Regions from separate parts of the Homo sapiens genome. Here region 1 is linked to region 2. A link means that fine-mapping ties the variant in region 2 to the expression of a gene that starts in the linked region. Tissue or cell type: whole blood. Region 2 holds a variant in brackets; the other region holds the start of a gene. All regions are shown on one strand. Distances are between the middles of the regions.

Region 1 (5,143 bases), 35 kb before region 2:
TGTCTACTAAAAAAAAAAAAAAAAAATTAGCTGGGCGCGGTGGCGGGCGCCTGTAGTCCCAGCTACTCTGGAGGCTGAGGCAGTAGAATGGCGTGAACCCGGGAGGCGGAGCTTGCAGTGAGTCAAGATCGTGCCACTGCACTCCAGCCTGGGCGACAGAGCGAGACTCTGTCTCAAAAAAAAAAGCTTTGGCTTTTTTTGGGGAATATTTGTACCATAGTTAGCAGGTGAGCCTCCCAAATTCCCACATCCGAAATCTGAAGTGTTCCAGTGAGTATTTCCTTTTGTGCGGCATGTCAGCTGCTCAAAAGTTTTGAATTGGGGGTGTTTGGATTTGGGATACTTAGCCCGTAGTGCTGAGGAGAAAATTTCTGTCTCTTCTATTTTTCCTACACTTCCCAAATTTCTTTAAAGAGTATGAATAAATGCTATTGGGTAAAAAGAAATCTGTTTAAAACCTGTGATCTTTAAAGACTTGACCAGGGTATCCCACGCTTGAGGCACTGCCTAGGCCCAGTGAGCCAAGCCCAGCCCGAGTCGGCAGCGCGGCCCCGCCCCCGCAAGCCCCGCCCCATGCCGAGGGCATTTCCGGGCGCTCTAGGCAGCTCGGAGGACCCGTTCGGAAGACTGGCGGGGGACCCCAGGCGAACCCAAGGGTGGCGGGCCAGGGCCGGGCGAGTGCCTGGCGTTGCTCGCGCGGCTGGGGGCCATGGCTGTGGGGCCTCTCTGGGAGGGGTCGCGAGGCTGTGAACTAGCACGGGGCTACGTTGTAGAGAGAGAGATGGGGCGTCACGGAGGCAGGGGGTGCCAGGCAGGGCGCGGCTGCCAGAGGCCCAGAGGCCGAGCTGGGCCCTGCAGGTCTGAGGTGCAGGACCCGATTCTGGCCCAAGCAGGGGCGTCCCACGGCTCGAGCTGCCCGTCCAGGTGGTGTCTGAGGAGAGCCTGGGCAGCGGCCTTGCAGAGGGCAGGCCAGCAGCTCCTGCTTTGAGGGCTTGGAGGAGAACAGATTCCCGAACCAGGCCCATGATCAATGTATTTGGGTATTTGAACTAAATCCAGATTTCCTGGCTTCCCCTGAGGCCTGCTGAATCCCTTGGGGTGGGGCCTGGGAATCTGCGTTTTCCAGTGGGCCTCTCAGGTAGTTGGGTGGTCCCTGAGTGGGTTCCCATGACCCCATGAAACAAGACCCTAGAAAACGCAAGGCAAAGCGGCCTGGTGAGTGGCCAATGGTCTACAGGAACTGGATGTGATCAGAGCGAGACCTGCATCAACTGGGCAGGGGAGGCGTGGAGCCATACCTGAGGAAGAGACCCAGCCGGAACCCAGGGAAGAGCAGGCTGTGAAAACTGGGCAGAAACTTGCGGCGACTCGGAAGACACTGCCAGGAAACCCTCCCCGGGCCTCCTGTGGGGCTTGTAGCAGCCGCAGGGGTTGGCTCTCACCTTCTAGTCCCAGCCAGGTTGTCTTGGAGTCAGCTAATGGGCAAGGCCCCTACCTCTCTTAGGATCTGAGGATGGGAGGGGCTGCGTTTTTCCAGAGGATCTGCACGTGTGCAGGCTGAGTGTTGAGACTTGATTGGTGTCAACTGGCACTGCCTGCCCATGATGCACAAAAGCTACTGTAAGAAACAGGGTCCATGTCTCCAGGGAGCAGGACCCCGTTCTGAGGCCACAACCCCGAGGGCAGTCTCCGCCTGCAGAGTCCTCCCTCTCGCACCGGCTCACCTCGTGGTGAATCCCTTGGCTACGGTTTGGTGTGAGAAAAGAGATGGGTGTTTCACTCCCTGCTGCATCCCTGGTGACGGCCCTGGCATTTCGGGGCATGAGATCTTTGCTTAAAGGTTTTGCGGTGGTCACTGCACAGGGGGTGGGGGTGGGGTCCCTTGGTGCAATTTATCCGATTCTGCTGCGTGGATGACATCCACAGTGTTCCTCTCCAGTGGGGATTATCTGAGACCTTTCCGCATGCCCGCACCCACAGTCCGCTCCCTCACGGCAGCATGAACTCAGGAGGCGGGCGTTCCCACAGTCATTACATTTGCAGGGCCTCTCTATGTCCACTCTGATGCCTGAGGACCAGCGCTTCCACGAAGGTGTGGCCACGTCCAGTGCTGCTCATTGGCTTCTCTCCTGCGGGAATGTTCTGATCCCGAACGGAGCCTGAGCATGCGCGAAACCCTTCCCACGTTCACAAGGTGCTTCTCCAGTGTTCCATTACATCTCACCTATGCACACTACATGCATACGGTTTCCACCGGCTGTGCGTGTCCCTAGAAGTCACATTCACGGCGTTTCTCCCTGGGAGGAATTCTCCCGTGCATGGCTGCTCTGAGACCATTTGCACCTGCGGCCACGCGTGGGCTCCTCGAGGCTTACAAACCAGGCTGGACTCCTGAAGCCCTAGCTGCACTTGGCACTCGGCGAGGTTTTTCTACAAAATCTCATCTCAGCCATCTGAGTCCTTCACCATTTATCTTATGAATCCGCTCGAACGTACAAGGAAGGCCTCTCTGCCCTCCTGCTCCAGGGAGGAGGTTTTGACCCTCAGCTCCACCTCTGCGGCTGGCCCGGTCTCCGCAAACCTTTTTCTGCTTGGCCAGCTGGTGCCATGCTAGGCTTTCCCACTAGGGGCGCCAGAGAAAGCGCGCGAGGCTGCGGAGGAGAGAGGGGCACACTCTTTCCGGTTTGCTTCCGGTTTTTTCCTCAGGCTTCCGGTCTGTTTGGTGCCCTGGTCGCGTGTCTTCCGAACTCTGCTGCTTCGCCCCGGCAAGAGCACTTCCTTCCGCGGCTGCTAAAACTGGTGCGCGGGTTCCCAACTTCGCAGAAGAGCTTCATCGGCCCCCCGCTAGAGACCTCAGACCGCAGCCATCGACGCCTCGCCTCGGGGATCTGTCCCCACCCTCGGGGCCAGGTCAGGGACCAGAGACCTGCGAAGCCCTCTCCTTAGGGGTTTAGTTCCCAGGCTTTCTGACCCCAGTAATTCCAAACGCTTCCCTTTGTTTCCACAGCCCTAGCGTAGCAGGTGCTCCCTGCAGTTTTTGCTTCTGAGATAGAGTTCTCTTTTCAGCTCCTTCGGTAGTCACTTCGTACATAGTGATTCATGATGCGAAATCCTCTCTGTTGAAATAACTGACGAGGCCTCTGTCTTCTGACTGGACCCTGACTTCCATGCCCTTTCCACTCTCACTCCAGTACATGCCCAAACCCCAATCTTTGTTGCTCCAGGCATTGCCTCTGTGGCGCTGTGTCCCCTCCTTTGAACTCTGATCCTTCTGCTCAGGCCCTTTCTCCCAGTCTGAAGTAAGGAGTGAAAAAATGTGAATTGTTCTACTCATCTGGAAAAGAGAACCCTGAGGCAGGAACAAGTCGTTAATTGCATGTGCGTTTGTCCACAGCTCACCATGAGTCAGGCCCTGTGCTAGGTGCTGGGATGAAGCAGTGACTGACACAGGCCTGGACCTGTCCTTGGGAAGAGTGCGTCTGTGACACAGATACTGTGCCATGTGGCAAAGTAAGCGCGTGGGACAGCAGAGCCTTGTTTGCCATTAAAGTAATATCACAAGTCTGTTAAGGTTGGAGAATCAAGTGAACATGCTGAAAAGTTATGGGGAATGTAGTCTCATAGCTGGGGGAGCTGGGGGCCTTGTCAATTGGTTCCCCCAGTCTGGAGAGCAATCTGAGAGTAAGTAGTGACACTGTGTGTGCTGAGTGTGTCTGTGGGGGTGTTTTTGGATAAAATTAACATTTGAATTTGTGAACTGAGTGAAGCAGAGTGCCCTTCATAATGTGGGTGGGCCTCATTCAATTAGTTCAAGGCCCGCATAGGAACCACCTCCTGCCTGACTGAACCGGGACCTACGTCTTTTCTTGCCTTCAGACTTGAATGGAGACATCAGCTCTTTGTGGGTCTCAAGTCTACTGGCTTTCAATCAGCTCTTCTGCTTGACAGCTGCAGGTCTTGGGACTGCCCAGCCCCCATAACCCTGTGAGTGCATTCCTGATAATAACCCTCTTTCTCTTGTCCTCCCCCACCCCACATCATTGGTTCTGTTTCTCTGGAGAACCATAATACATCATTTACTAATCAGGAAATAGATTCAGAGACATTAATAACTCATCCAACCTCACAGTTAACTGTAGAGTTGGGCTTGAAATTCCAAGGTCGATTTTCTTAGCCAATACACCATGCTACATATATGTATGTAAAAATAAAAACGCTTGTGAACTGAAAAGGGTCCAAACTTAAGCTCATTTTGGTCCTTAATTGCTAATCCATAGGCATGTTTTGGTCCTTAATTGCTAATCCATAAGCATGTTTCGGTCCTTATTTGCTAATCCATAGGCCTGCACACCTGCCCCCAAGGCCATGGTTAGGTCAGCACTTGGCCCTCCCCTTGTCTGGGGCTGCCAGAAGCTGCCTCAGAAGACCTCTCCCTGCAGCTCCAGTGCTTTAGGGTTCAGCGCCCCTCCAGGGCCTTTATTTCCTTCTGGGCTCAAAAGCAGATACTGTGCCAGATACAGATGATCACTTTCTGGGTTCCAGAACTCACATGCACCCCTTTTCCTGGTCTCTCACATTTGCTGTGACCAACCCAAGCCTCAGGTGGTCCTCTGCTGAGACTGTCCACTCACGCTGTTGACAGAGCCCTTCCAGGAGCTCTTTTTGTGGGGATTTGCTATGTACCTGGCACTGTGCAAAGAACCCCACCCATGCCGTCCTTGCAGCCGCCATGTGCGGTGCGGAGCGGGCTGCGCTAACCACCATTGTCAGAGGCAGAAACAGGCTCCGTGAGGAAGGATAAGTGTGGGTTATGGAATCAGGGCTGGCAGATCCCAAACCTTGGCTCCCAGATACCATGGGATCTTTAGGAAGATCCCTGGTCACTTCGGGGAGGAGAGAGAGGGCGAAGGCTGAGAATCGGGGTCCTGGGTCGGAGGAGGGAGAGGGGTGGTGGTGTGGGCTTGGAGGTGGTGTGGGTTGGAGATTGGCCGTTGAGCTGGAGATGCTCCAGGTGGTCTGCGTCCAGGTTCCTCTGGTGGCGGGGGATGGGGCAGAGCCGGCAGGGGTGGGACGGGGCTCCGAGCCAGCCCCGGGGGCGGCCACCCGGACAAGCGGCCCTCGTGTGACGCAAATCGAAGGAGGA
Region 2 (5,143 bases):
CGTAAGTGACACAACTCAACACATAAATACTTTGAATTCTCTTTGTTGAGAGGAGGTTGGTGGCCTTCCCTCCTCTCCCTCATGAGTGCAGGTAACACATAAACTCACTACAGATTTCCTATCTCAACAAGGAGGGTCTGGTCTTTTCTACAGGAAAATGTTTAGATGAATGTGACTCAGTTTCAGGCCAACATCACTTTCTAGGGCTCTATCTAGAGGTGGCGTGTGGGAGGAGGCAGATCAGGTGGGCGCCAGAACTGAAGATGAAGGCCACGTGTGCTGAGGGAGGATGCAGGCATAAAGCAGCATCTCTGCTGGGGTGGGCAGGGGGTGGGCCCTGGTGCCCAGGATAGAGGATCACAGCCCAAGCTGGCTGGAGTTTGAGGCCGGGGTCCAGCTCTGGTAGGAAACAAAGGTGAGAACCAAGAACCAGCACAGAAGACCAGTCGACCAGCTGTTTGCCTCATGGGCAGGGCGGAGCTGGAGAAACGGCAGCTCTCCAGGGCATGGCGGGAACCTATCTGGCTCTCTGCAGACTCCACTCCACGGCGGGGCGGGGGGTGGTTTGTGAACCCACTGAGCCTAACGGCTGCTGCCCGAGGCCTGTGTGGGGGTCCTCCATGCTGTACAGCACTGTTCCTTCTTCCAGACACTTGTCACTGCACGTGTGGCTGGTCACTGACATGGCAGTCTCCTTATGCGACAGGGTCTCCTGAAGGCGAGGATCGTATCTTTTTTATCTCCAAATCCTAGTCACATACTGTGGTCAGGGAACATTCTCCATAACGGCTCTGTCGACTCAACTTAGGCTGGCAGGTGCTAACCGGCAGAGACTGGAATGACTCACTTCTCTACACGCTGCCCACCCTGAGAAATAAAATATTTCTTAAAAGCAGAGTGGACTGGCCGGGCGCGGTGGCTCATGCCTGTAATCCCAGCACTTTGGGAGGCCGAGGTGGGCGGATCACGAGGTCAGGAGATCGAGACCATCCTGGCCAACATGGTGAAACCCTGTCCCTACCAAAACACAAAAAATTAGCTGGGCGTGGTGGCACGTGCCTGTAGTCCTAGCTACTCAGGAGGCTGAGGGAGGGGAATTGCCTGAACCCAGGAGATAGAAGTTGCAGTGAGCAAAGGTCGCGCCAGTGCACTCCTGCCTGGCGACAGAACAAGACTCCGTCTCAAACAAAAAAACCAAACCAAACCAAAACAAAAAACCCCACACGCAAAAAACAAAAACGGATTGGACCATAGCGATTTTCTTGGCCTCACCTCACAGGCCTGTAGACAGGAGTGATTAGCTAGTTACAAACAGCGCAACCCACGCTTGCCACACCCCTAAAGACTGGGGTTCTGGTTCTGTCGTGCAACTCCAGCGTAGCTCCGTCGCCTCTCTGGGCGGAGGACCCTTCACTTGTAATATGAAGCTCTGGGTATCCGTGGGCGGTAAGGGCTGCCTAGAAAACCTCACTCACCCTGGCGCCTCCCTCCACTACTTTCAGGGATCTGGGTCTCATGGAGAGACTGGAACATTAGTGGGCTTGAGATTCAGGGGCAATCTGCACTAAAACAGCCTGCTGGGTCCACGGCCTGCCAGGGGCCTGCTAGCTGTGCCAAGGCCTGAGATGCCAGGCATCTGAGCCAGGCGGAGGGGCCCGCCAGGGTCCCGTGCGTGCTCCTAGTTAGAGGCTCTCCTTTCAACGGCAGAGCCCCGCGGCCCACGTGCAGAGCTAGGTCGGCCTCGGGGCCGGCGCCCGGGAGGTGCTCAAAGCCGGGTCTTGCCACATCCCTGGAGCGCCGGGGTGCGGGGAGGCGGCGGGGCCCATACCGACGCTGCGCGTCCTGGGCCGGAGGCGGCAGGCAGGAGCCCAGTGAGTACCTGGCTGGAGACGAGAGGCGACGAGGACCTCCCGCTGCAGAGCGCGGACGCGCCCGGGCCCTACCAGGACTGCTGGAGGGCGGGGAGAGGCGCGCGCCCCTCGCGGGGGCCGGAGGCAGGAAAGGAGAGCCCTAGATGCGGGACCCCCCAACAGCTCCCCACCAGTGCCAGCGTCCCCGTCGGCCCTAGGCACCGGCAGGAAATGCCCGCCCGCTGACCCGCCCCTTCCGGCGGCCGCGCTAGGAGCCTGGGCCGGACTCGGTGATGGTGGGCGGTGGAGGGCTCGGCCCGAGCGGCTCCATCCCCAGCCGACTCCGCCCCCGAAGACCCCGCCCCGATCAGGCCCCGCCCCCTCAGGCTTCACCCATAACTGCCGCCACGCCCGCAGGGTCCTCCCCGAGCTGACCCCGCCCCTTTACAGTCGTCTATGGCAGGCGCCCTCCCGAAGGCTCCCCCGAAATCAGGTCCCTCCCCGAGCGGGCCCCGCCTCCGAAAGCTCCTTCCCGAGCCGGCTTCCCCTCATGCCCCGCCCCCTCAGGCTCCGCCCTCGTGTCCCGCCCCCGAAAGTTCCTCCCCAGCCACCTCCCCACATGCTCCGCCCCCAGGCTCCGCCCCATGTCCCGCCCCCAAAAAGCCCCGCCCCGAACCGGCACCCTCATGCCCCGCCCCCAGCGGCCCCGCCCCGCAAGGCCCAGTCCCCAGCAGCTCGGTCCCGAGCCGACCCTGTCACGTAGGCTGCGCCCACCAGACTCTCCGGATCCGACGCGCGTGGGCTCCTGGCTCCAGACCCCCAACGGGGAGGTCGCGGCCGCGTGCTGGGAGACTTGTCCCTGAGGACGCTCCCCGCCAACCCCCAGCCCCCGCCGACCCCCAGCTCCCGCCTCCGCCGACCCCCAGCCCCCGCCTCCGCGGCGCCCACGGCTTGCCTCCACGGGAAGTCGCTGTCTCCGCCTTCAGCGCGGAAGGAGAACCGACGCCTCTCCAGGCCGCGGGCCCCTAGCTAGGCGGGCAACGCCTCCACCGCCGCCGCCACCGCGTGCGCGCCCTGGCGAGCCGTCCCCCACCACGTGGCCCCTGCCGCTCCTCCCGCCGCAGGCAGCCCCTCCGGGATGTGCTCCCAGCCGCTGGCTGTGCTCACTCCACTTCCTGCCTGCCCAGATCGCACTGAGCCGCCAGGCCCGCCAGAGCCCCGCGTGTTAGTTCCCTACGTACCGCAAATTGGGTGTCCTAAAACGACATCCGCCTATTATCTCAAGGCTTCTGTGGGCCAGAAGGCCAGGCTTAGCTGGGTCCTCAGCTC[T/C]GGTCAGCCGCTGTGTTCTCATCTGGGGGCTGGACTGGGGAAGGATCACTTCCCACCTCATGCGATTGCTGGCAGAAGTCATGTCCTGGTGCCTGTAGGACTGAGGGCCGGCAGGAGCTGCTCTCAGCTCCCGGGGGCTGCCTGCCAGTCCCTACTGTGGGAGGGTGGGCGGTTCACAGGGTGGCCGCTTCCCCAGGGTCCGTGGGAGAGCCCCACCCCCAGATGGAGTCCTGTGGAACAGAACCTAATTGTGGGTGACATGCCACCCCCTCGGCCCAGTTCTACTCAGATTCAAGTCACAAGTGCCGCCTGTAGCCAAGGGAAGGATGGGCATTGGGCTGGCTCTGGCACATCTCCTTAGGATATCTGCAGCATTCTGCCCCCCCAACACTTCCCATTTCCACTTTCTATATGATTTCCTTATTATATTTATTATTAATTATCCCCCGCTCCCACACTCCCATGCAAATCAGCTCTTGGAGGGCAGCCACCTGTTCTTGTTCTGGGTGCCTGATGTGTGCTGGGCCCTCGTGTCGTGTGGACTGAGTGAGCATGAGTGGAGATCTTAGGTGCTGCTGGTGTCGTGGCACCCTAGGAACTGCCTGCCCCCACCCAGCCCTCTCTCCAACTGCCTCCTGGACTTAGCAAGGTGTTGAAAACCAGGCAGTTCTGCTCCCTCCTCGTCCCACCCCCCTCTCCCATCCTGTTGCTTTTACCTCCCAATGTTTTAAACCACCCACTCTTGTCCAGCCTGCTTCCTCTGTCCCGGCTGCAACCCCATCTCCTCTCACCAGCATTACTTCTGTGCCCTGCCCTGGGGTCTCCCTGCCTTCATTTGGGCTCCCCTGTCCACCCCTCCTACAGCAGCTGGAGGGACTGACTTACCGGGCAAACCCACAGTGGCCCTCCCAGCTTCACGCCTGTCCTGCAGGATGAGGTCTGGGCCCCCTTAGCAGCTGCAAAGGGGCCTGCACAGACTTGCAGGCCGCCCCTCTCACCACCCTTTCCCCTTCCAGGAGACTCAGCAGCAAGTGCTTGCCCTGCCACACAGCATCGGCTGCATGCCTCAACCCTGGGCCTTGAACACCCCCGCTCCGCCTCCGCCTGACAGACCCTTTCCTGCTTTTTAAGACTCCACCTGTTCGAGCTCCTCTGTGCCAGCCCCGGCCTCGCCCCTGCCAGCCTTAGGCCAAGGCTGCGTGGGTAGCTGTCCATACAGGTTACATGCTGCACATGACCCTCGGTCAGGGCTTGTCTTTTTCATCTTTGTATTATCGGGGGCCAACACATAGCCCATAGCAGGTGCCTAATCCATATTTATTGAGCAATTGATGACTGATGGGGCTGGGACAGAGAGAATAAGACTGAGAATAAGAATGGCAGGGTGGGCGCAGTGGCTCATGCCTGTAACCCCAGCACTTTGGGAGGTCAAGGTGGGTGGATTGCTTGAGGTCAGGACTTCGAGACCAGCCTGGCCAACATGGTGAAAACCTGTCTCTACTAAAAATACAAAAATTAGCCGGGTGTGGTGGTACGTGCCTGTAGTTCTGGCTACCTGGGAGGCTGAGGCAAAAGAATTGCTTAAACCTGGGAGGCAGAGGTTGCAGTGATGCTGAAATCATGCCACTGCACTTCAGCTTGGGTGACAAAGCGAGACTCCATCTCAAAAAAAAAAACAAAAGCAAACAAACAAAAAACAAAAGCAGAAGAAGGAGAAAGGTGTCCTTCCCCTATCTCAAAAGAGACAGCCCCTTGCCTTCTAAATGAGCCAGGTGGCCCCTCCAGTCCCTTCAGGCGTGGTGGTGGCTGGGCCGGCCCACCAGAGACTCCATTTGGTGCCAACACCATTGGTATGTGATATGTGGGCAGAGGCTGTTTCCCTGGCCCGGAATCTCCCATTGTCACCAGACCCCCCCGCTCCAGCTACCCTGTAAATATGGAAAGAAGCTCCAAGGGCTGAGGAC

The links. PIP is the estimated chance that this variant, and not a neighbour inherited with it, causes the effect.
Region 1: it holds the start of MINCR, and the variant in region 2 is fine-mapped to the expression of MINCR in whole blood (INTERVAL, PIP above 0.99).

The regions. Positions count from the first base shown.
Region 1 is chr8:143,279,249-143,284,391 of GRCh38, reverse strand. It overlaps MINCR (MYC-induced long non-coding RNA), which reads left to right and starts at 2,692. Exons shown (of 3, transcript NR_120682.1): 1 at 2,692-2,910; 2 at 3,395-3,510; 3 at 3,877-4,237. RefSeq lists enhancers at 2,763-2,912, 4,209-4,851.
Region 2 is chr8:143,243,879-143,249,021 of GRCh38, reverse strand. It overlaps ZFP41 (ZFP41 zinc finger protein), which reads right to left and starts at 2,083. Exons shown (of 3, transcript NM_173832.6): 1 at 1,880-2,083. RefSeq lists silencers at 1,649-1,698, 1,739-2,628, 2,829-2,988. The variant T/C (reference allele first, on the strand shown) is at 3,180.